3 separate regions of the Homo sapiens genome follow, and regions 2 and 3 are each linked to region 1. The links come from fine-mapping of genetic effects on gene expression. A gene starts in region 1. Each other region holds a variant in brackets. All regions are shown on one strand. Distances are from middle to middle. Region 1 holds the start of GPR135 (G protein-coupled receptor 135). Region 2 overlaps CCDC175 (coiled-coil domain containing 175). Region 3 has its middle 110 kb from the start of DAAM1.

The links. PIP is the estimated chance that this variant, and not a neighbour inherited with it, causes the effect.
Region 2: its variant is the best candidate, but not a certain one, in a credible set for the expression of GPR135 in whole blood (TOPMed, PIP 0.77).
Region 3: its variant is the best candidate, but not a certain one, in a credible set for the expression of GPR135 in whole blood (TOPMed, PIP 0.60).

The regions. Positions count from the first base shown.
Region 1 is chr14:59,462,279-59,470,165 of GRCh38, forward strand. GPR135 (G protein-coupled receptor 135) reads right to left here and starts at 3,102. Exons shown (of 1, transcript NM_022571.6): 1 at 1-3,102. The coding sequence starts at 2,948. The coding sequence ends at 1,464. It also overlaps a transcript of L3HYPDH not described here. RefSeq lists a silencer at 2,633-3,172.
Region 2 is chr14:59,541,675-59,549,561 of GRCh38, forward strand. It overlaps CCDC175 (coiled-coil domain containing 175), which reads right to left. Exons shown (of 20, transcript NM_001164399.2): 9 at 3,489-3,625; 10 at 1,670-1,780. Among named protein-coding and RNA genes, the nearest start is that of CCDC175, 31 kb to the right of the region's middle. The variant A/G (reference allele first, on the strand shown) is at 4,798.
Region 3 is chr14:59,073,222-59,081,108 of GRCh38, forward strand. No RefSeq gene overlaps it. Among named protein-coding and RNA genes, the nearest start is that of DAAM1, 110 kb to the right of the region's middle. The variant G/C (reference allele first, on the strand shown) is at 4,174.

The DNA.
Region 1 (7,887 bases):
AGGAAAAGAAAGGGAAAAATAATATTTAAAAAAATTCTGAGTAAATGATTCTGTGTATAGTCGTATTTAACATTAGAAAGTTCACATACGCTTTTGAATTATTGTAAAACCATCTTTTCTGCTAAGATAGAAATTTAAAAAGCATCTTTGATTTGCATATTTCTAAAGATATTTTCAGTTTGCTTGAAGTTCTTCTCCAACTTTATGCCTGTGTTTTAATACCGTTACATATAGTCCCACACCTATTCTCCCTTTAATAAATACATTATCTTCGACAAGTCATAGCTATAAAGCAACCATCAGCTATTTTAAAAAATACAAAATATACCAAATTTCTAAATGTAGGAGGGTATGATCTATTTGGAAAAGTCTACGCTAATTCCAAGAGGCTGCTTCTCAAAATAGTTTTAGAATTTCTCTTTGGAATCGTTTTCAGTTAGCTAAAAGCCACGTAGGAAACCCAACCTTGTTGTTTTATAGAGGTCTCATTTTAAAAAATAATAAAAATTTAAATAAAGTGGCATCACTCACCTTATTCAATCAACTTGACTTCAAATTACATTTTTGGCTATATCCAAAAATCAAATTTACCTCAAAAGACAAAAATTTTCTACAATGAAAATATTTTTTTAAATGTGAAAGCATTCTGAGAGCAGCATTCCAAAATTTATCAGAAATAAAAGTAACAGGTTAGAGTAAGGATAAAACTTCAAAGTTTTCCAAGGAAGATCATTTTGGAGGTATGACGCGGGTGGAAGGAATGTTAATTTTTACATATAATCTTGGAAAACATTTAAAAGACACATTTCTTTATGTTCATACTTCTATTTGTCCTTCAGATGGTTGAATTTTATCTAATAATAACCAGCTTTTCAAAATCCTAAAATGATTTTAAATGGGTTATGAATTAAAAATTTTCCACAAAGGTTATTAGGGGGTGGGGTGAGGAGGTGCACCAATGTGTGTAAGGATAAGACTTTTCCACTTGCAATCTAAGCACCCAAAGCATGTCAGAGGTGCAAGCTCTAGAAGCTAAAGTTTTGTTGGATGGTAGCGATTTAGAGGGGCTTTCAAGCAGCTCTGAAGGTCTCCATTCATTCCTGAAATTCTGTGTAGTTGAACAATACTGGTTGCATTCAATGTTTTGTTTGTTTCACAGTGTGGTCCTATAATATGAGCTTTTCAGTTATAGTGAATGTTATTTTTGTCATTTTTGGCACTTACAGTTCACAATGCTTGGTTATGTGGTTTAAGATTGTTTTAATTTTTGCATTTTACATTCCTTTTGGCACTTTTGAAGAAGGGACATTGTCTTTTATGTTGTTTGGGGAAAGTGGTAAGCCTCCCCCGTCTCTAGCTTTAAATGTTTGGCTTTATGAAATCCACAACTCTCCCCCAGAATCTTCCATCATTAAATAATGCGAGTGGAAATTTGCCTTCATAAGCTGGCCATTCCAACCGTCTTAGAGGCTGGTATCCCCAGCTTCGGATTTAGGCTGTTTGGTCACTGCCGTCACCGGCTCTGGTGGTCCCTCTCGGCAGAAAAGTACAACTGGATTTTTGCGGGCCCACATGGCCACGTCCCCTGCCACTCCGCTGGCCGGGTTGGAAGAGGACATCCTGTTGCAGGCCCCCAGCCGGTTGGCATAGCGGTTTCGAAGGCGACTGCGGCTTCTGGCTTGCAGACCCGGGCCCTGGCTGGGCAGGAAAGCGTCCACATTCCTAGTCCGGTAGCCCTCCTCGCGGTTGCGCCCTAGGAGCATCGAAATGTTGGGATTGCGGATGGCGTAGATGACAGGGTTGATGGCCCCATTGGCCCAGGTCAGCCAGACGGCCACCACGCTGAGGAGCGAGGGGGCCTGCATGGTCTGGGCCTGCCGGGCGGCGGCCAGCAGCACCAGGAAGCAGTAGGGCCCCCAGCAGCAGATGACGAAGACGATCATGATGAGGACGGTGGTGGCCGTGCGCACCTCGCTGAAGAAGCGCAGCACGCGCGCGTAGGTGTTCACCGGCCGCACGCGCACGTCCGACAGGCGCACCGTCTTGCAGATGTGGTAGTGGCAGAAGCACATGAGCAGGAAGGGCAGCAGGTAGCAGGCCACCACCAGCCCCACGCTGAAGGCCGCGCCCAGCTGCGCGGGGTCCGGGGAGGTCCGGTAGAGGCAGCCGTGGAAGCTCTGCGCCGCCGCGAGTTCCCGGGGCGCCCCGAGCAGCTCCCAGGGCAAGGAGAAGCCCAGGGCCGTCAGCCAGGCGCCCGCCAGCAGCTGCAGCGCGCGGCGGCGGCCGATCTTCTCCCGCGGCGGCCGCACGATAGCGCAGTAACGGTCCAACGAGATGAGCGCCACGCTGAGCGTGGACACGATGCCGAAGCACGAGCTGAAGAAGCGGCTGGCGGCGCAGAAGCCGCGCCAGGGCCCCGCGGCGGCGGCAGGCGCCGAACCCCCGGGCGGAGTGAAGAGGTCCAGGAAGGCGGCGGGCAGGCAGAGCAGCGCCGTGAGCAGATCCGATAGGGACAGCGACAGGATGAAGGCGTTGGTGACGGTGCGGAGCTGCCGGTGCTTCACAATCACCCCCATCACCGCGCAGTTGCCAAGGCTAGACAGCAGGAAGATGAGCAGGAGGACGAGCGCCTGGGCCGCCACTGCAGCTCCGTGCGACAGCAGCGGCGCCGCCTCCGGGCCTAGCGGCCGCCTCACCGCCGCCCCCGCCTCCCGCGCTGCCCCGGACCCGCCAAGGCCGCCGCCACCGGGAGCGGCAGCTGTGCCGCCTCCGCTTGCGTCGCTCAGGTTCCCCAGCGCCGCGGTCGCCACGGTGCTGAAGGAGAGCACGGCCGCCGTGGCCGCGGAGGAAGTCCCGCCAGGTGGGCCGGCCGCGGAGGGGGCGCCGGAGTGCTGGCTGCCCAGTAAGGCCATGCTCGCTGGTGGGCGGGGCGGCTGCGGCTCCTCCATGGGGCCCAGTGGCGGCCGCGGATCTCCTCATCCCGCACCGGGGGCGGCGGCCGCTAGGTCGGAGTGGTGGCTCGGGGCCGGGGGCTAGCGGCCGCCGCGGGGAGCTGGGCTCGGCCGGAGGGGTGGCGGTCGCTGGGGACCTGGCGGAGCCTTTGACGTGGGTTCCAGCGTTGCCGAGGGAACCGCGTGTTTACGCAGGAGCGCGGGGCGGGACGGCAGCCCAGTACCCGCTGCAAAGCCGACCCGCGACACCGCCACTCCGGAGGTTACCGGCCCGGGTGTTCGGGTTTCCGAGAGTGCCAGGTCGACCTCCTGAGGGACCAATGTCCGGCCAGATAAAGTGCCGACTGGCATGCAAACAAATGACCAGATTCAACGAAAGTTCACTCTTGCTCTCTTTTGTAGGGTACAAATGTTCTACAGGCAGGCCTTTTGGGGAGTGGTGGGGGGGGCACTCTGCTTCCTGTGGGTGCTTTTGGTATATACAGGTAGGAAAGGAATCTAGAAAGTGAAGTGAAAGAAAAATCCAGAAGTCTACATCCAGACATCTTAAACTTGAGAAGCAGACTAATTTAAACCAGTAATTCTCAAACTTGAGCTAACAGAATTCACATAGAGGGCGTGTTAAAATACAAGTGACGAGGTCTGAACCCCAGCGTTTCGAATATGTCTGGGGAAGTACCCAAGAATTTGTATCTCTAACGGGTTCGCGGGTGGTGATGATGATGCTGGTCCCAGGACCACACTTACAGAAGCACTGATGTCAAGAGTTTCATAAAATGCAGATTCCCAGGCTGACAGAATTACTAAGGATGGGCCCATGACTCTAAACCCCGTAGGTGATTCTGATACAGGTGCTCTGAGGAGCTAGGATAGTTCCTTTAGATGTTACTTCATTTCCAAGGGCCTGGACCTCAGGCCCCTACTGGCTGATAAATGGGGGGAGAGGGATTGGTGCCTTGCCCTGCTAGCAGCCTTCATCTGTTCTCAGGAATGGGGTATGTTTTGAGTCTAAGGTGCTGCCAGCCTGGCAATCACCACAGATGCAGCTCCAGGTACCTGGCTGGGAGATACGGGGAAAAGAAAGGCAGGGCTACCCAGGGAAGTTGCATCTCAAGTTTCTGGGCATGGCCTCTAATGGGGAAAAGTGTGATAAACCCTCAGGTTAACTAACCCTGGGCTCTTCGCTAAAGCAGTGGTTCACAGAGTATGGACATTGGACCAGCAGCATCAACATCCCCTGGAAACCTTGAGAAATACAAATTATCAGGCCTACAGTGCATAGGATACCCCTGATCTACTGAAACTCCTGTGGTGGGGCCCAGGCACCTATGTTTTAACAAGCCCTCCCAGTGATTCTGATGCACAAATTTGAGAAACACTGCTCTAAAGAATGACTAGTATATTTGTAGATCTTAGAATCAATGGTATTAGTATTGGAGTGCTTATTTCATTCAGAAAAAATATCCTACAGGAAATTTACAGTATAAATAGAAGAACGTTTAAGGTGGCAAACCAAAACTGGGTTTGTCAGCCTAAGCGTCATGGACTTTTGGGCCAGATAATTCTTTATTGCAGGGGCCATCTATACATTGTATGATGTTCAGCAGCATCCCTAGTTCCTACCTACGAGATGCCAGTAGCACCTCTCCCAGCTGTGACAACTAAAACTGTCTTCAGATATTGCCAAATATCCTCTTGGGAGCAGTCAATGCCAGCTTAATCTAGACTGATTTTGTCTTAATTTTGTCAATCAAAGCAAAAATATAATTATCATACATTAATTTATTTGGCAAACACAATCTTCTCAGATTGTGCTTAGTTTTAGGAAACAACATATAAGATAGGAAACCCAGCCCAAATAAGCTTAAGCCACCGGCCAACACAGTATATTACAGTGTGCTAAATATTGTCTTAAAAATATGTGAGTGAAATTATTTGTCTTCCTGACAAAGACTTTGTACAAGAGGTGACATTAGACTTTTTAAAAAAAGAAGAAAGGGAAAGAACATTTGATGAATGTGCAAAGTCTGGAGGTTAGTGTTGAAGTGAGCAGTGTCTGAATTCTAGGATATTGGAGATGGGGAGTGAAGAAGGAAATAAATGATCAAAGTTTATTGGGGCTACCTTATGATGGGCCTTGTAGGCCATGCTCTGGAGACTGAACTTCATCAGGGGAGGAGGGGCTAATAGCATAAGGGAGGGCCGTGAGCAAGTGCATGGTTCAGAAGGACCAGAAGGACTGCACTCTTCTGCTTCCTTCCTTCCTCATCTTTCTCAGTGTCCTCTCCTCTGCCAGTTCATCCTCTTCCACCTGCCTTTACATGCTGGAGTTCATCAAAGCCCTGTTCTCAGCTCCTCTGGACTCCCCCCTCGGCCCCATCTCACTCACATCCAGGACTTCAAAGATAATCTATATATTCATTACTCAAATTATGTCTGTGGCCCCAACCTACATGTCCTGCTACTTGGCATCTCTCTCCTTGATGTGCCAGTGGCACATCAAATGGGTGCATGATCTTCTTCCTACTTCCCCGGTAAAACTTGGTCTTCAATACTCTGTATCTCAGAATATGGTAGAACCATCCTTCTAGCTTTTAAGCCAAAAACTTAAGAGTTTTCCTTGATGAATCCCTCCTCCTTACCACCAGTCCACATCCAATTCATCAACCAAGACCTATGGATTTTAGTTGCGGACTATCTTTGCATCCATTCATCTCCTCCATCCTGAATCTTGGCTCTCATCCTCTCTTTGGACTACTGTTGTCACTGTTGTCCTAACCGGTCTTCCCACATCCAGTTCCTACATTGTAGGCAGCTAGGCATAATGCTCTTAAAAAAATTCTTCATGCCACTTACTTATTTAAACTCTTCTAATTAGGCCAGTGTAGTGGCATGTGCCTGTAGTCCCAGGTACTTAGGAAGCTGAGGAGGGAGGATCGTATGAGCCCAGTAGTTACAGGCCAGCCTGGGCAACATAGTGAGACCATGTCTCTTTTAAAAAAAATCCTATTGGCTTTCCCCATTTATTTTAGAATAAGGACCCCAATCCTTAATATTTCCTACAAGGCACTGCATGATTTGACCCTGCTTCCTCTCTAGTCTCATTCGGTACCACTTTCCTTCTTTTTTCTGTGTTCCTGCCACACTTGGCTTTTATGACTTCCTTAAACCTTCCATCTTAGGGTGTTTGCACTTGCTATCCCCTCTGCCTGGAAAGCTCCATCTTCTTCTTCCCTTCCCTAGCATCCCCATCTTCGCGTTAAGGTTAGTCCATGGGGGAAGCCTCCCTTGACTGATACCGTCCTTTCCCCACGTATTGGGCCATGTTCCCCTGTTAGTTTCACAGCACTCTGTATTTTCCATTGTAGCACATAACCATGGTCTATAATTTTTTGCGTGATTATCTAAGCATTACCTGCCTCCCACTCTATACTATATGAGGACCTAAACCTTGCCTGTTTATTTTATGAGATCCCCAGCACTTAGCACTCTAACAAACTGCTATACAAATGCCAACATACAAAAAAATATTTTTTGAGTAACTGTAAGAGGAGAATCTGGAATTTAGGAGACCACTTAAGGAGAGGCATTCTAACAGTCCAGGTGAAAAGTGAGAGTCTGAAGTGGACCTTTGCAGTGAAGAAGGAGAGGTCATGTATAGATTAGGGTAGGTAGTATATGGATTAGGATTCTCTGGGCGTAAGTAACACATGAGGACACTGGTTCACATAAGCAATATAGGAATTTACTGGAAGGACAGGGGAAGTTCCATTTACAAAAGGACAGTCTAACAGCAGCTCCAAGAAGAAGAGAAGTCAGAGCAGTCCTGTGGGTAGGGAGAGCAGAAACTGATGGGAGTGATCTCTTTAGGCCACCATTGGAACAGATCAACTTCAGTTTTCAGACCTTATGTCATTTCTCAAGATCTCAGGTCTGGGGGAAAAAGTCTTGACTGGTGTACCAGTTTCCCAGCAGTCCTAGCAAGACTACATGCAGGTAGTTTCCCAAAGAAAAAGGAGAATGCTGTTGATAAAAGAAGGGGAGGCCAGGCGCGGTGGCTCATGCCTGTAATCCCAGCACTTTGGGAGGCCAAGGTGGGTGAATCACGAGATCAGGAGTTCAAGGCCAGCCTGGCCAACAGGGTGAAATCCCGTCTCTACTAAAAATACAAAAAAATTAGCTGAACGTAGTGGCAGGCACCTGTAATCCCAGCTACTCAGGAGGCTGAGGCAGGAGAATCGCTTGAACCCGGGAAGCAGAGGTTGCAGTGAGCCAAGATCATGCCAACTGCACTCTCGCCCTGGCGACAGAGTGAGACTCCATCTCATTAAAAAAAAAAAAAAAAAAAAAAAAAAAAAGGTTGGGGGGTAAAAGAAGGGGAAAGGCATGATGGCTGGAGAAATCCACAGCTATCCACCTCAGGAGCATCAACAAAGAGGACAAAGATTGTGAATAGGAGCCAAGGGTCAATCCCAAGTCCCTAGCTTGGTGGATGGTGGTGCCATTAATCAAGTTAGGAAATATGGGAAGAGGGCCACAGTCTAGGGGGAAAATGATCTTGGTTGTCCTCTAAGTACTGAATCTACAGTATGGCCTTAGACCTCAGAAATTAGGGATGTGGATGTGGTTAGTCTCTCTACAAGAGGGAAAACCATGGGAATGAATGTGACAATTTAAGGACAGAGTAGTCAGGGAAGAAAGAAAAGGACCATGGATGGAATGCTAGGGAGTAATAAAAGTTAAGAAGCAGATAAAGAAAGCAAAGCTAGGCAGGTGAATGATACAGTTAATGAGGCACAATGGTCTATTGAGAAATCAGCTGTTTTATGTTTTTGGTTTTCAGAAAAGAAGGTAAGGCAATTTTCCCAGCCTTTTATGAGGAACGTACTTGTGAGCGCTATCCTTTACCTCCAGGTGGAGAGCTAACAGGCTTTTC
Region 2 (7,887 bases), 79 kb after region 1:
ATTTACATATTTAATGTAATCCATAAAGAACTTGAACCAGTTTAAAATAAAGCAACAATAATATAAAAAAATCCTAAATGGATAATAACATTGGGCCACAAATTTGGCTTTGAGATTCCTGGTGACCAGAGCAATTATGCACAGTAACTGACTATAAAATTTGCATTATTCATGAGGAACATAAAACCTGATTCAGTCCAAATCGATCTTCCTCCTCTTTTATTAGTAGTTCGTAGTTTTCCTTATGAAGCTGACATAATTGGAAACAGATGTTTGAATATATTATTTAACAATATGGGGACAACCATTCAAGCAAGGAACCTATGCTTCCTGTCACATTCCAGATATCTGTTGGTATGTGCTTGAATTTTCATCACCCCCTACCTTAGTTCTATAAGCTGGCTTCTTGATTGTCCTATATTTAAATCATGTGTCTCCCTTTGTGTGGTGATATCATTCTCCCATACAATGAGCACAGAAAAATCTGACTTGCTTTTAAAGGTCTAGTTCAAATTTTAAATCCTATATAACGAAGGACTCCTTGATTTCACTTTCATGCCCGACTGTTTTATATAATTCACTGTCATACATGGTTTATTTTTCACCATCATATGTGGTTCATTAATTATTTCATATGTGTTAGTCTTGCTTCTCTGCCCAACTGAACTATAAGCTCCTTATGCTCAGTCTTAATGTGTACAATGGTAGAATATTTACATAGGTCATTTTGACAATCATTATAAAAGTGAAAAATATGCATCCTCCTTTGATCCAGCACTTCAACTTTTAGGACTTTATTACAAAAAAAAAGTCATATGGGTAGAGAGAGATATGTTAACTTCAAATATTTGTAATATAGGCAACAGACAAAAGTAAATCTCCATCAATAGAGTGCTGGTTAAATACAGTATAGTATAATGTGTATTATACTATAATCTGCATAGAATACTATGCAGTTAGAGAAAAGATTGAGATATATTGAGAATATATATATATTCTCTTTGTTTTGAAATAGTTTTAAACTCAACAGGTAAGCATAAAAAAATAGTACAAAGAATTCCCATATATCCTTCACCAAATTCTCCAACTGTTAACATTTTACCTTATTTGTTTTATCATCCTCCTAGGTATAATTTTAAGTGGAACAAATTCAGTTATAGTAGAGTATAATCCAATTTTTGGATACATACATATAAATATATATTTGAAAGCATATATTGTAAACTGTTAACAGTGATTATGCCTGTGGAGAGATGGAGATTTTAGGGTAACTTTTATTCTCTAAGTTATGCATTTTATATATGAATTTTAAAATCATGTACAGGTATTATTTTTTAATCAGAAAAAAATTAAAATTAAAATGACTTAGAATGCAGAAATGAACATCAATGGGACTCAGTGTTGTGATAATGTTCAGGCACATTCTTGTCACTGCACCCCAACTGGTCCATTCCTGGGGCCCAGGAGCTCCCATAGAATTCAGAACCTGTTTATCCTTTCAATGAAAAAGTCCATGAGAGTGACTTCCAGACTGTGAAACAGAGAGAGCTAGTTCTAAACTTCCTTTTCTGTAGTATGTTAGAAATCAACATAGATTTACTGCTATCATTTATTAAAAAATAAATGCAGAGAAAGTAAAGATAAAAAATTTCAAAGGCAACAAACATACTGTTGAAGTTCCTGGAGTGTGATGAGTCCTTCTTCCATATTTTTGATGTCTACTCTCTTTTGTGACAGAAAGTATTCTTTCTGAGAAATAAATGTCAGCTGTTTCTGATTTCTATCATGAAAAACAGAGTTATTTGTTGAAGGCTGACATAAATATGCAAACACAAATAAGAATTTCAAAAATAGTTTTGAAAGTTCAGATCATGAGCTATTTGCTACATAAATTATTAAAAAATAGAAAGCAAGTCTTTTTGCTAGTGGTAGCTAGATCTAAATTTATGCAAAGGATTTTCTTTTTTTCAAATTTTTTCCCAGCTGATTTTTGTACTTTTGTAGAGATGGGGTTTCCCTGTGTTGCCCAGGCTGGTATCAAATGCCTGGTCTTATGCGATTGGTCCATGTTGGCCTCCCAAAGTGCTGGATTACAGGCGTGAGCCACTGTGCCCAGCATACACATAGGATTTTCATAAAATTTATGAAAATTCCCAAGCCACTGAAAGAATATTCACCACAATAGTAACCACAAAACAACAAGAACAGTTGTGTAGTGCTCCATGTCTCTGAGTGGGTGTGTCTCTCCTAACGTGCTTATCAATTCTGTCATGTTCTTCCATGGAAGGTGAAGGAGTCAGTCAGATTAATTTTGCATATTGGCTCTACCTTTTAATAAGAGTGTGATCTTAAGCTAACAATTAGCTTCACCTGTGAATAAGCTTCAGTTTCACCAGCTATAAAATGAGAATTACAATGCCTAGCTCAACGGATGAATGAATTTAATAAGATGTAAAGTGCTCCTCTCAGCGTGTGGATTGATAAGGGTTTTTTTTGTTTGTTTTGTTTTGAGACGGAGTCTGGCTCTTGTCGCCCAGGCCAGAGTGCAATGGTATGATCTTAGCTTACTGTAACCTCCGCCTCCTGGGTTGAAGCGATTCTCCTGCCTCAGCTTTCAGAGTAGCTGGGATTACAAGCACCCGCCACCATGCCCAGCTAATTTTTTGTATTTTTAGTAGAGATGGGGTTTCAAGTAGTTATTTTTTTGTCTCAAATTGCAGGAGAAAATAATGAGGCTCAGAGAAGTTTATAGTCTTGTTCAAATGCCCAGCTATTGATAGGAAGCTGCCTGTATCAGAAAGTATTTTATCTAAGTGACTCATCTTCCAAACTGCTGTGGACTGAATTGTGCCTCCCCCATCTCCAGAATTTATCTGTTGAAATGCTAACCCCCAACATGATGAAGAAATAGAGAGATTTGGGTAATTTTTACTCTCTAAGCTATACATTTCTATATTTGAATTTAAAAATCAAGTACAGGCATTGCTTTTTTCATGAGAAAAAATTAAAATTTAAAGTGCTTTAGAATGGCAGAAAGGAACATTGTGGGGCATTAGTGTCGTGATAATGCTCGAGCATATTATAAAGATGGGGCCTTTGGGGAAGTGATTAGGTTTGGATGAGGACATGAGGGTGGGACCTTATAAAAGAAAGACACCAGACAGACAGCATGTTCTCTCTCCACCCTGTGAAGACACAGAGAGAAAGCGGCTGGGTGGCTGTAAGCTAGAAAAGGGCCCTCACTCAGACTTCCAGCCTCCAGAACCGTGAGAAAATCAATTTCTGTTGCTTAAGCAGCCAGTCTATGGTATTTTGTTATGGCAGCCTGAGCTGCTGAGACAGAAACCAGTAATGATAGCAAATGTTTTCATTTTTGTCAATAGATTTTAAAACTAGGATAAGTTTAAGTGGAGAGCCACCACTTTGATAGCAAGAAAAGCACCCCATAATGATGGCATGTTGAATCACACGTGTGGGTAAAGACATACTCATCATGAATCTTTTGTTTTTGCAAAAAAGCTTTTTCTTCCTCACTTAAAACAATCTTATATTGTCTGGCAAGAGTTTTCATTTTCTCTCGTAGGTCTTTGTATTCCATACGAGCAGCATGCAGTGTTTCAACCAGCTAGAGAAAAACAAAGGAGGTGAATGAGAGGACTGGCTTCACTGCTCCTCTGAGGCCATCTGCATCAGGTGGCAACTCGGAGAGCACCTGGGATATTGCTTAGCCCACCGTGAATATGCCATAAATGCCGAGTGATTTAATTCTATAGCAAACATACAACTGTATATTTTGAGACCTCTACTATAAATTTTTTTAAGTATAGAAAAATAGTAAACCCTGCTGCAAAACCATAGAGTAATAATCCATATTGAAATGCAAAATGGGATGAATAAACTGTGACTGCTGAGCAACGTTAGTATGTCCTTTTCCAGAATATAAACTATAGAAAATGTAACATCCTCAGAAGCTCTTCCTCAAAACATTTTTGAGTTGATATTATGCTTGCTTCTTGTGAAATATTTCTATTTGAGGACAAAAAATAGTACCCACCAGTGTTCTACATGAGATCAGAATTTTTTGCTTATTAAATTGCTTCAAACGAGGTAAGAAAGTCAAGTTTAGCGGAAACAATGGGCTGAATAGTTCAAAACAACCTTCTATCTGAGGACAACTAAAATAGCTACATGAAAAAATATTTGTAGAAGTGTTGAAGAACTCACAAGATAACAAAGAATTATTCAAAAAACAAAAATAGAATTACTATTCAACCCAGCAATCCCATTACTGAGTATATACCCAAAGGAAAATAAATTAATCTACCGAAAGGATACCTGTGCTCATGTTTATTGCTGCACTATTCAGAATAGCAAAGACATGGAATCAACCCAGGTGCCCATGAACAGTGGATTGGATAAAGAAAATGTGGTAATAATACACCATGGAACATTATGCAGCCATAAAAAAGAATGAAATCATATCCTTTCTAGCAACATGGGTGCACCTAGAGGCCATTATCCTAAGTGGATTAATGCAGAAGCAGAAAATGAAATACTGCATATTCTCATTTATAAGTAGGAGCTAAATATTAGGTATACATGGACACAAAGATGGGAACAATAGACACTGGGACTCCAAAAAGATGGAGGGAAGAAGTGGGGAAGGGTTGGAAAACTACCTATTGGGTATTATGTTCACTACTTGGGTGACGGGATCATTAGCAGCCCAAATCTCAGCATTATGCAATATACCCTTGTAATAAACCTGCACATGTGCTTGAATCTAAAAAAATAAAA[A/G]TAAAAAATAAAGGATAATAGGTGATTGCTAGGCCTAATTCTAGGAGAATGAAGAATCCAGAGCGGTAAGGCTAGCACTTAAAATTCCTCTGCCTTGAAAACACTTACTAACATAGAAGAAACCACTTGAAAACCAAGTTTTGGGTTTTTTTGCATGGCAAGTGGAACAAAAGCCAACATGTAATGCTCATCCAGGTGTTGAGCCTACATAAACCTCCCACTATTTTAGTCTGGGATTCCAAAGAGCTTCACCCTTTGGAAGGCTGAGGCAGGAGGATTGCTTGAGACTGGGAGGTCCGAGGCTGCAGTGAGCCATGATCATACCACTGCACTCTAGTCTGGGTGACAGAGTGAGATCCTGTCTCAAAAATAAATAAATAAATAAATAAAAAAGAATGCACAATTAAAAGATGAACAAATATCTAGAGCTTCTCAACATTTGAGTAAAATCAATACTGTAAAACAAAGCAATCAAAATCTACTATAGGCCAGGTGTGGTGGCTCGTGCCTGTAATCCTAGCACTTTGAGAGGCGGAGGTGGGAGGATCACTTGAGCCCAGGAGTTAGAGACCAGCCTGGGCAACACAGGGAGAATAGGACAAAAGAAACAGGTGAGGACATAATGGCTGAAAATTTTGCAGAACTTATGAAATATAGAAATTCTCAGATTTAAGAAGCCAAATAAATCCCAAGGAGGAAAAATGAAAAGAAAATTTGGACACATCATAGTGCAACTGAACAGCTAAGGCAAAGGGAACAAAGAAGATCTAAAACAAAAGACATATGCCATGTTAACGGATTGGAAGCCTCAATACTGTGAAAATGTGAAACCCTCTTCAAACTGATTTACAGATTTAACACAATCCCAATCAAAATCCAAACAGGTTTTTTGGAAGAACGTGACAAAATTGAAAAGGTCAAGAATAGCTGGAACACTTTTGAAGAACAAAGGTGAAGGATTTATACCACTGGCCATAAAAACTCATTTTAAAGGTACTAATTAAGACAATATTGTTTTAGTGTGAGGAGAGATGAATAGTTCAAATGAATAGAGTCAACAATCCACATATACATTTATGATCTATACTTGATTTATGACAATAGTATGACCACAATGTAGTGAAGGAAAGGATTGTATTTTCAGTAAATGGTGCTGGTTAATTGGACAACCTTATGGAAAAATATGAATCTTGACCACTATCTCAAAGCACATACACATAAATTCCAGATGGTTCGTAGTCTTAAATGTGAAAGGTCAAACAACAAAGCTTCTCAATGGTAACAGAAGAGAATAGTCTCATGACATAGGACATAGAGAACATTAACTAAAAAGATTGATAAACTGGACTTCATTAAAATTAATAAATTATATTCATCAAAAATATGTACATAAATATTGTATATTTATGGTTTATGTATTGTTCTGTAATGTGTAATATTTTATAATAACAAAGCTAAATCCAACAATGCCACTGCTGGGTATATATCCCAAGGAAATGAAATCAGTATGGCAAAGAGATATCTGTACTTCTATGTTCATTGCAGCACTATTCAGAGTAGCTAAGATGTAGAATCAACCTAGGTGTTCATCAGCCGATGAATGGATAAAGAAAATGTATACATGCACAATTGAATATATTCAGCCTTAAAAAAGAAGAAATTCTTGTCATTTGTGACAACATGGATGAACCTGGAGGACATCATGTTAAGTGAAATAATTCAGGTACAGAAAAACAAATATTACATGATCCCAATTATACGCAAAATCTAAAAAAAAACTGAACTCAGAAGTAGAGAGTAGAATGGTGGTTGCCAAGGGCTGGTGAGGGAGGGGAGATGCTGGGAAAAAAAGGTAAAGTTTGAGTTGAATGTCAATCTTTGAATGTTCCTCCAATAACTCATGAGAATTATGATTGGATGTCACTAAGAGCCCATAGTTTCTACCCTAGTGAAAATAATAAATAAGCAAGAGCCTTGCATTCTTTGAAGTGATCACTCACTTATAACCATGGAATTTGGCTAAGGGCTATGGATTAAAGGAAAACTCTTTGACCAAGTAAGCCATGCCAGTTTAGGGGTCCTAGACTGTTCAGAAAATCATGTGGGCTAGAAAATGTGGAGTTATTGTCAGAAAGTTGTCTACTAGCTTCTGCAGTAGGAAACAAATGGGAGGAAAAATAATATTTTGCTCACAAAATGAAAGACAAATTCGAAACCAACCAACCAGCCAACAAACCAACCTTGTCTGGTTTCTGTCTGTTGTTAGGTATCCTTGCAAATAAAAGAATCACAGTAGCCCAGAGGGGAAGCCATCTCTCATGCTGATAGCTCACAAAAGCAAAAATGGAAAGCATTTAATTGGTACAAATCATTCTTCTGGGAGGGAGCTGCCTTTGATATCCCTGATGAGCCTCAGGGCATGGGTACAGAGGCAGATATTATGCTTTGTAAAAGAGGGAGAAGAATTTGGATGTGGGGTGGTATCCTACAGCAAGAAGATAGATGAGGAACTGTGAGAGAAAGAAAAGGTGGTGAACAAGATGGCTTTGTGCTCTGCAACAGGATTTCTCCCCATGACCACTAAAATTTCCAACAGAGTTTGCAATAGATCATGAAATGCTTAGTGTAATTAAATTTGTTTTAGAAACTAGTGAAAAATGTGAATTTTATATCCTGGTTGACTTGGGCAAAACAAAGATAGAGGATGTAGACAGAGAGTACCTGACCCAAGTCCTGAACAATTAAAATTAAGTATGTGTGGCTAGGGGTGGTGGCTCACGCCTGTAATCCCCAGCATTCTGGGAGACCAAGGCAGGAGGATTGCTTGAACTGAGGAGTTCACAACCAGCCGAGGCAACATAAAGCGACCTGTCTCTGCAAATAATTTAAAAATTAGCTGGGCATGGTGTTGAGTGCCTGTAGTCTCAGCTATTCAGCAGGCTGCAGCAGGAGGATCACCTAGGCCTGGGAGGTTGAGGCTATAGTGATTTGTGACTATGCCACTGCATTCCAGCCTGGTGGGTGGATCATTTCAGGTCAGGAGTTGGAGACCAGCCTGACCAACATAATGAAACCCTGTCTCTATTAAAA
Region 3 (7,887 bases), 390 kb before region 1:
AAAATAAAAATTGTCTTTTTTTCCAAACAAATTCTTTGGAGATATCCTTGATTTTTATATAGCTGTCCCGTCAGATCAAATCTACCTGCCTACCAACCTCTTCCATCAGAAACTGAATTAGCTCTCAAGAGTACAAGCTGTCGGCACTATGGGAAAATTTTGTTATTGTGTGACTTATAACTAAAAATAATTCTTATACTTTGGAAATGCCAAAATAATCACAATTCAGAACTCTTCCTCAAATAGGTATATATATATAGGTCAATATTTGAATTAAAGCAAATACTTTAAAATACACCAATATATAGATGGATTACCTACATAAATTTCTATGTGTGTTTTCTTCAAAGAAAAAATTAATTTCCCTATGCATAGATAGTTCAACTTGTTAAAACAATAAAAGTGAGCATTTTAATTTCCTTCCAGATTTGTAGAACAATTATATTATTTACTAGCCTATGCTTAAAGAATAATATTAGTTTCCAAAAGCAAAGGGACCTAAGTTAAGTATTAATAGAACATATGAGATTCATTTTCATTTTTATTGTACTCTATGGCTAAGGAAAGTAATAAAAAAATTCTAAGATTCACCAAAAGCATATGAAAACATAAAATGTATTCAGTGATTTGTCAAGAAGCATTTCTTTATATTATTAGGAGTGAAAACAGCCCCAGAAAAGTCCTCACCCAAGAATAGACCAGAGCTTATTGAGGTAGGCTTTCACCCAGATAGAAGGACATCTTAAAGCAGTCCTACCTCTAACGAAATGTTCCTGTATCTTCCTTCCCCTCCATGGTACATTTAGGCAGTAGCCCATCAGCATCTGAGCGGTGTTGTAGAACCCTTTTAAATGATCTCATGTCAACCTCACTGTTCTTTCTGGAACCTTGAGAGCGGCTAATTCTACAGACAGACCTCTTTTAATAGTTTCAATATATTAGTTTCTTATTAGTGCTATAATAAATTCTCACAACCTTAGTGTCTTGAAACAACACAAATTTATAATTACATTTCTGGAAGTCATAAATTCAAAATGCTCTCAGTGATCCAAAGTCAAGGTGTCGGAAAGTATGTTCTTTCAGGAGCCTCTGGGGAAAAATGTTTCCTTGCCTTTTGTAGTTTATAGAAGCCATCTGTATTCCTTGGCCCATGCCTCTTCCTCTATCTACTGAGTTGGCAAAGTTGGTAGGGTATCATCTTCAAATCTTCAAAAAAGCTGACTCCTCTGCCTCTCCCTTTCACTTATAAGGAGCTTTGTGCATACACTGCATCCACCCTGCTAATACAGAGTAACCTCCCCATCTCAAGTCAGCTGATCTTACTTTGTCCCTTCCCAAGTGACACGACAAATCCACAGGTTCCTGGGATTAGACATAAACATATTTGGCGGGGCATGGTGGCTCACCCCTGTAATCCCAGCACTTTGGGAGGCCAAGGCAGGCAGATCACCTGAGGTCAGGAGTTCAAGACCAGCCTGGCCAAGATGGCAAATACTGTCTCTACTAAAAATAAAAAAATTAGCTGGGCATGGTGGCGCACACCTGTAATCCCAGCTACTCAGGAGGCTGAGGCAGGAGAATCGCTTGAACCCAGGAGGCGGAGGTTGCAGTGGGCCGAGATCACGCCATTGCACTCCAGCCTGGGTGCTAGAGCAAGACTCCATCTCAAAAAAGGAAAAAAAGAAAAGAAAAGGAAGGGAAGGGGAGAGGAGGGGTAAAGGGAGGGGAGGGAAGGGGTGAAGGGAGGGTTGTGTGATCTTAAGCAAACCACTTAATTTTTCCCTGCTTCAGTTGTCATCTGTAGTGGTGATGGTTTGAATCACAGCCCTGCCACTTGTGATCTTGCAAGTTTTTAACCTCTATAAGCTTTGGTTTCCTTTGCAGAGAGAACAAAAAGGATAATAATAACTAACTCATAGGTTGTGAAGATTAAACAAAACAATACAGTTAGAAATCTTGGCTCAAATTAGGGACTTAATAAATGTAACTGGTTTTTGGGACCATGTAAATTATTAGTATAGGGTCTGTTATATAGTAGGTGGCCACTAAATTCAAACAAGAACTATTAATAAGTAGTAACCAGTATTAATCATATTAATCATTATTTTTAACATAGGTCTTGCATCTTATTTATCTTGTTATTTCCCACAATAATTTTATAGTGATATATAGTGATCATATATCACTATTTATATTATATATAGGTAGGTAATATATGTCTGCTATATATGTTAGTCAGAATTTATTTGGTTAAAAGTGATATAAACCCATCTTAAATTTTCTTAAAAACAGACAATTTACCAGCCAACACATTTTTAAACTCTAGGCATGGATGACCATTGAAGCAGATGCTGTTGGTACTTGCCCAAAAAACTACCTCTCTGTCTGAGAGCTTTTATCTGGCTTTGGGGACAGGCCCAGGCACAAAGAAGGGCAGGGCAGAAGTGTCAGAGAGTTAATGCCCCTGAAAGCAGCCATAAATCGATACGGGGAGTTGATGAATAACTTCTCTAGGCTCCTCACCTCTCAGAGGGAATGACTCTGAAACCTGTCCTACACTGTCCCACCAAGTTTCTTCTGTGGGATTGAGCCCCAGTTGCCCACCATATCAACATGCTTGAAATTACATTTTTATTGTCTTCCTTTACTTCTCAGTCTCCTTTCCCCACTCTCTTACCAGTATTTCCTGGGTTCACCTCCAAAATACATTGCTGGCACTCAAATTTATAACACTGCCCCAATACTTAGGCAGCACCCACCTCCCAGATACTGCTCTTAAATGATGTCAAAACCAGGTCTTAATAAGGCATTCTACCTTAGTCTTAGGGGAGGCAAATAATCGATTTAATTGTGGTGTCCTTCTTGGACATTAGGAATCTATTAGGAATCTTGAAAGAGTCAAGTGAAGAATGCTGGAGAGGTGGGAGTGGAGATTTTTCCCTGGAGCTGGGGCAGGGGTAATCTTCCAAGGAACATGTGGAATTCTGCAGCAAGAGCCATCACATACAGCCTGGGGAGGTTGTCCATAACCTAACTCCAGAGCCTACCATTTACAGAGACCCTGGGATGAAGGGTAACCCCTGGAGTTGTGCTGTGCCCCATCTGCATCTATATATGGAGGCCCTCTCTGTAGCTAGCCCTCAGATCCTGATATAAAAATGAGCATTTGAGAAGGGAGCTCACCAGGAGCATTGTTAATAATAACAAGAAATTAGAACGACTTACATGTTCATCAATAAGGTGTTGGTTAGTAAATGGAATCTCTAGCAAACTTTTTTAAAAATTTATTTTTTACTTTTGTGGGTACATAGTAGGTATATATATTTATGGGGTACATGAAATGTTTTGATACAAGCATGCAATGAGAAATAATCACATCACAGAGAATGGGGTATCCATCACCTCAAGCATTTATCTTTTGTGTTACAAATAATCCAATTACACTCTTTGTTATTTTAAAATGTATAATTAATTTATTGTTGACTATAGTCACTGTGTTGTGCTATCAAATAGTAGATCTTATTCATTCTATTTTATTTTTGTACCCATTAGTCATCTCCAGCCTCCCACTACCCTTCCCAGCCTCTGGAAACCATCCTTCTACTCTCTGTGTCAATGAGTTCAATTGTTTTGATTTTTAGATCTCACAAATATCTAGCTAACTTTGTAAAAGGTGATAAATCTATATATGACTTAGAAAGAGATATGGCTATGTAAAACAGAAAAGGAAGGGTATAAAAATGTGCTGATTTTATGTTTACATTTGTGTTTAAATGGATCAGCAAGTATGTTTTCTTATTGACTCAAAGTGATTGCATCTAAAATATGATAACAAGACAGGATTCTCACTGCCGTATCTCCCGATGCCAATCTCCAAGGTAAGAGGCCCTTTAAAACCTTAATGTAGGCTTCCAGTAGGCTACCTGTCATTTGTCTAACTCAGGTCTGGAATCATGCCACCCTGTTTTTGCAACCAGATATGATAGACACAGTTTTTGATAAGCAAAGATCAATATGCTAGCTAAGATTAAATATAAATGCAAAATGTTGAGTGTATCTTACCATATGAAATGAGATATAGCTTCTTCTGTTTTGTGAAGTTGGCTAGGAATTAGGATCACATTTGCAGAATAACTGATGCAAAATTTCCAAATTCTCCAGAACCGTGTATCT[G/C]TCTGCCAGCTCTGATTTACCATCTTTAGTGGACTTAGAGGCTAGATATGATTACTCAGTTAGGGGCTTGTTCTATACACAGTGGAATCCTTGACACAGGACTCATTTTGATTATCTTCTTTCTATGTTTGAATTGGTGACCCCCTCCCCAGTTGTACTCCATCTGTGGCCAAGCAAGTCTCAAGTCTAGTTTGAATCATCTGTCAGACTGTGTCTTTTCATTCCTTTGTGAATGGAGAGGTCAAGGATTCAAGAAAGTACCTATCCATACTTCAGCATATTTGCTGTGCCTGTAAAGATTATGGATCCTCCAAAATAAAATTTGGTGAACCAATCATGATTTTGGTTGGTCATTTTTAGGAGTGAACTTGACATACAAGGGAGAAGGTTAATCAAAATTCAATAGATTTCTTATTTTAACTGTATGATAAAACAACAAAGCCCTCAAGAAAAAAATCTAGCTGAGAAGTTGTAAGGGCTGTCACCTGAATCTAAAAGATTTGCCGAAGTTCTTAAGCAAAAATGTGAAGCTGATCCAGCCAAATGCCAAACAGCTGCTTTATACATACAATTGGAACAATGTCGGTTTGTTCAAGATGCAACAGAAAAGGTTGATATTTAGATTTCAAAATTAAAAAGTGAAAATGTGAATTTCAAAATTGAAAAGTGAAAAATGATATAGGATACATATAACTAATGAAGACATGAAAAATTCCATGTTCATTAGTTATATGTATCCTATATCATTTTTAACAGTTCGTACTTAACATGTATGTTAATGCTGTTTGAAAAAAATAAGGTTTTGAGTTTTCTAAAAGAACTCTAAACTTAGAACTCTAAATTTGTAGATTTAATATAAACCATTTGGGCTTTTAAATGGCATTTGAAGGCCTCCATGCTTTAAAAACTGTTTGGAAAAGATACCTTCCAAGCAATCAATTAAAATACTTGAGAATATAAAGCTTCCATTTATAAAAGGAGTGAAAACAAATATTTTTTCCAAACTTCTGTTTGAGAGAATACGTATAAATGTTTTTTATGAAAAACTTTTTAAAATGTAACATTTTTCAGTTTAAAAATAAGTTCCTAATTGATTCATCTAAGACATTATTATAAATTAAACTCTTAAATTTAAAAAAAAAATTTTATACCAACAAATCAAAGGCAAATATAAATTAAACTTTTTAAATAATACTTTTAGGGCCGGGCGCGGTGGCTCACGCCTGTAATCCCAGCACTTTGGGAGGCTGAGGCGGGCGGATCACGAGGTCAGGAGATCGAGACCATCCCGGCTAAAACGGTGAAACCCCGTCTCTACTAAAAAATACAAAAAATTAGCCGGGCGTAGTGGCGGGCGCCTGTAGTCCCAGCTACTTGGGAGGCTGAGGCAGGAGAATGGCGTGAACCCGGGAGGCGGAGCTTGCAGTGAGCCGAGATCCCACCACTGCACTCCAGCCTGGGCGACAGAGCGAGACTCCGTCTCAAAAAAAAAAAAATAATACTTTTAGTTTTAGATACTTTTGTTTCTCAGTGTAAATTTATACCAAAAAAATTTAATTCCCATGTATTTGGGAATGATAGCATGCCAAAGTGCATTAAGATATCTTACCTATCTTACTTATCTAATTTGGAATATAGGTCAAGGTGCATGTAACAGGGCTCCAAAATAACAGTGTTTTGAATTCGCCAGAAATTATTTCTCTCTTCTCCACCAGTCTGGGAGTAAATAGTGTGATACTAGCTTAGGACATCTACCCCATGAGGTCATTCAGGGACCCAGGCTCCTTCTCTTATTGTTGCACCATCTCTAGTATGCTCCACTGATTCTCATGGTCCATAGTAGCTCACCACCTCATCCACATCATCCACAGTTAAAACAAGGTCGAAAAAATGGGCAGTGTAGGGCACACCTGTTTCACTTTAAGGTCACAAGCCTAAAGTTGTGTACAACAATATCATTTATACCCCTTTGGCCAAAACTTAGTCTCATGGCCACATCTAGATGCAAGGGAGACTGGGATTTGTCAAAAATTCAAAATATCTCTCATAATAGGAGAAGAAAGGAATGGATGTTGGGAAGAAATAACAAGAAGTCTCTTCCACAGACTGCCCCTTTAGCCACCCATAAATATCCAACTACACTTGACCTGCCAAACGAAATTCTTTCCTTTTTCCCACAGGAGATACTCCCAAAGTCCCATCCAGTTATATCATCAGGTTGAAATTCCAGGATCTCTTGGTGATGGGTAGTTATCTCCAAGTGTGGCTCCTGGGGTCAGATCACCTACAGTCTAAGAGAAGGTTCTTTTTCTCCGCCAATGGTGATAGATTTGGCACCAAAAAAAGAAGAGAAGAAACATGACAGTCATTGTTTCCACAGTGGTAAGCAAATCCTTCTGGTCAGAGATTGTGAAGATCCCTGTCCTGGTTATGGAGCAAGTCTCTGGTTCAGCTTTCTATGGAAAACTCCCTGGTATCCATTGCTCCTAGCTCTAGGGGGTAATTCTTTGTCCATCAGCCCCTATGGCCACATCTGAAGGTCATGGGAGAGTTAATGCTCCTTGTGATCTACAAAGCTTGTGCAGCCTGCTTCTTGTTGGAGCGTGTTTACAAATCCAGACGTTGCTAAGAGAAACAAATCCAATATATATAAAATTATAAGTTCATACTTTCCAGTGCCAATCAAACACCAAAGGGTTCTTCCTTTCCTTGTGCCATTTCATGTTTGTACCACCTTTATGCCTCAGTAAGAGTCTTTTTCCCAGCAATATCAATCAACCTATCTATCTATCTCAATTCTAACATTCTAAAATTGAGCAAATAACTTCAAAATTACTCTATCAATACTTCAATACTTCTACTAACAAGAAACCTACTAAGTAATGTTTAGTATTTCTTCATAGTACTTCTTGTCCTTGGAATGTATCTCCCTGAGAGTGTACATCAAAGTAATATATTCAAAAGTCTCTTGTATTAATTTTTTTTATTCTGTGTGGTTATGTTAACATTTTTATACACATTGAGGTTCATTTGTTTTTATTTGTGTTCAATTTTAGGACTTTCTCCATACTTTCTGAGTTATCAGTTACTTTTGATCAACAGAAGTACCGCTAAAGACACATCCCAAAAAAAGATTATCAGGAGAAACTTGATTTCCTTAATCTTTAAGGAGCACTTCTACACTAAAAAAAAAAAAATACTAATAGAGTCCGGGCGCGGTGGCTGACGCCTGTAATCCCAGCACTTTGGGAGGCCAAGGCAGGCGGATCACGAGTTCAGGAGATCGAGACCATCCTGGCTAACACCGTGAAACCCCGTCTCTACTAAAAATACAAAAAATTAGCCAGGCGTGGTGGTGGGCACCTGTAGTCCCAGCTACTCAGGAGGCTGAGGCAGGAGAATGGTGTGAACCCGGGAGGCGGAGCTTGCAGTGAGCCGAGATCGCGCCACTGCACTCCAGCCTGAGCGACAGAGCGAGACTCCGTCTCAAAAAAAAATAAAAATAAAAATAAAAATAAAAAAACAAAAATCCTAATAGAAAAACACACAAAAGACATACACACAAATTAATTTTTAGAAGGCAGAAATAGCCAATGAATATATGAATTAATAGGACCTACTCATTGAACTATTTTGAGAGGAAAGTAAGATACTCCCGCAAAAAATGATAATGATTATGATCATTGTTCTCACAAGTAATCTTAAAACAATGTA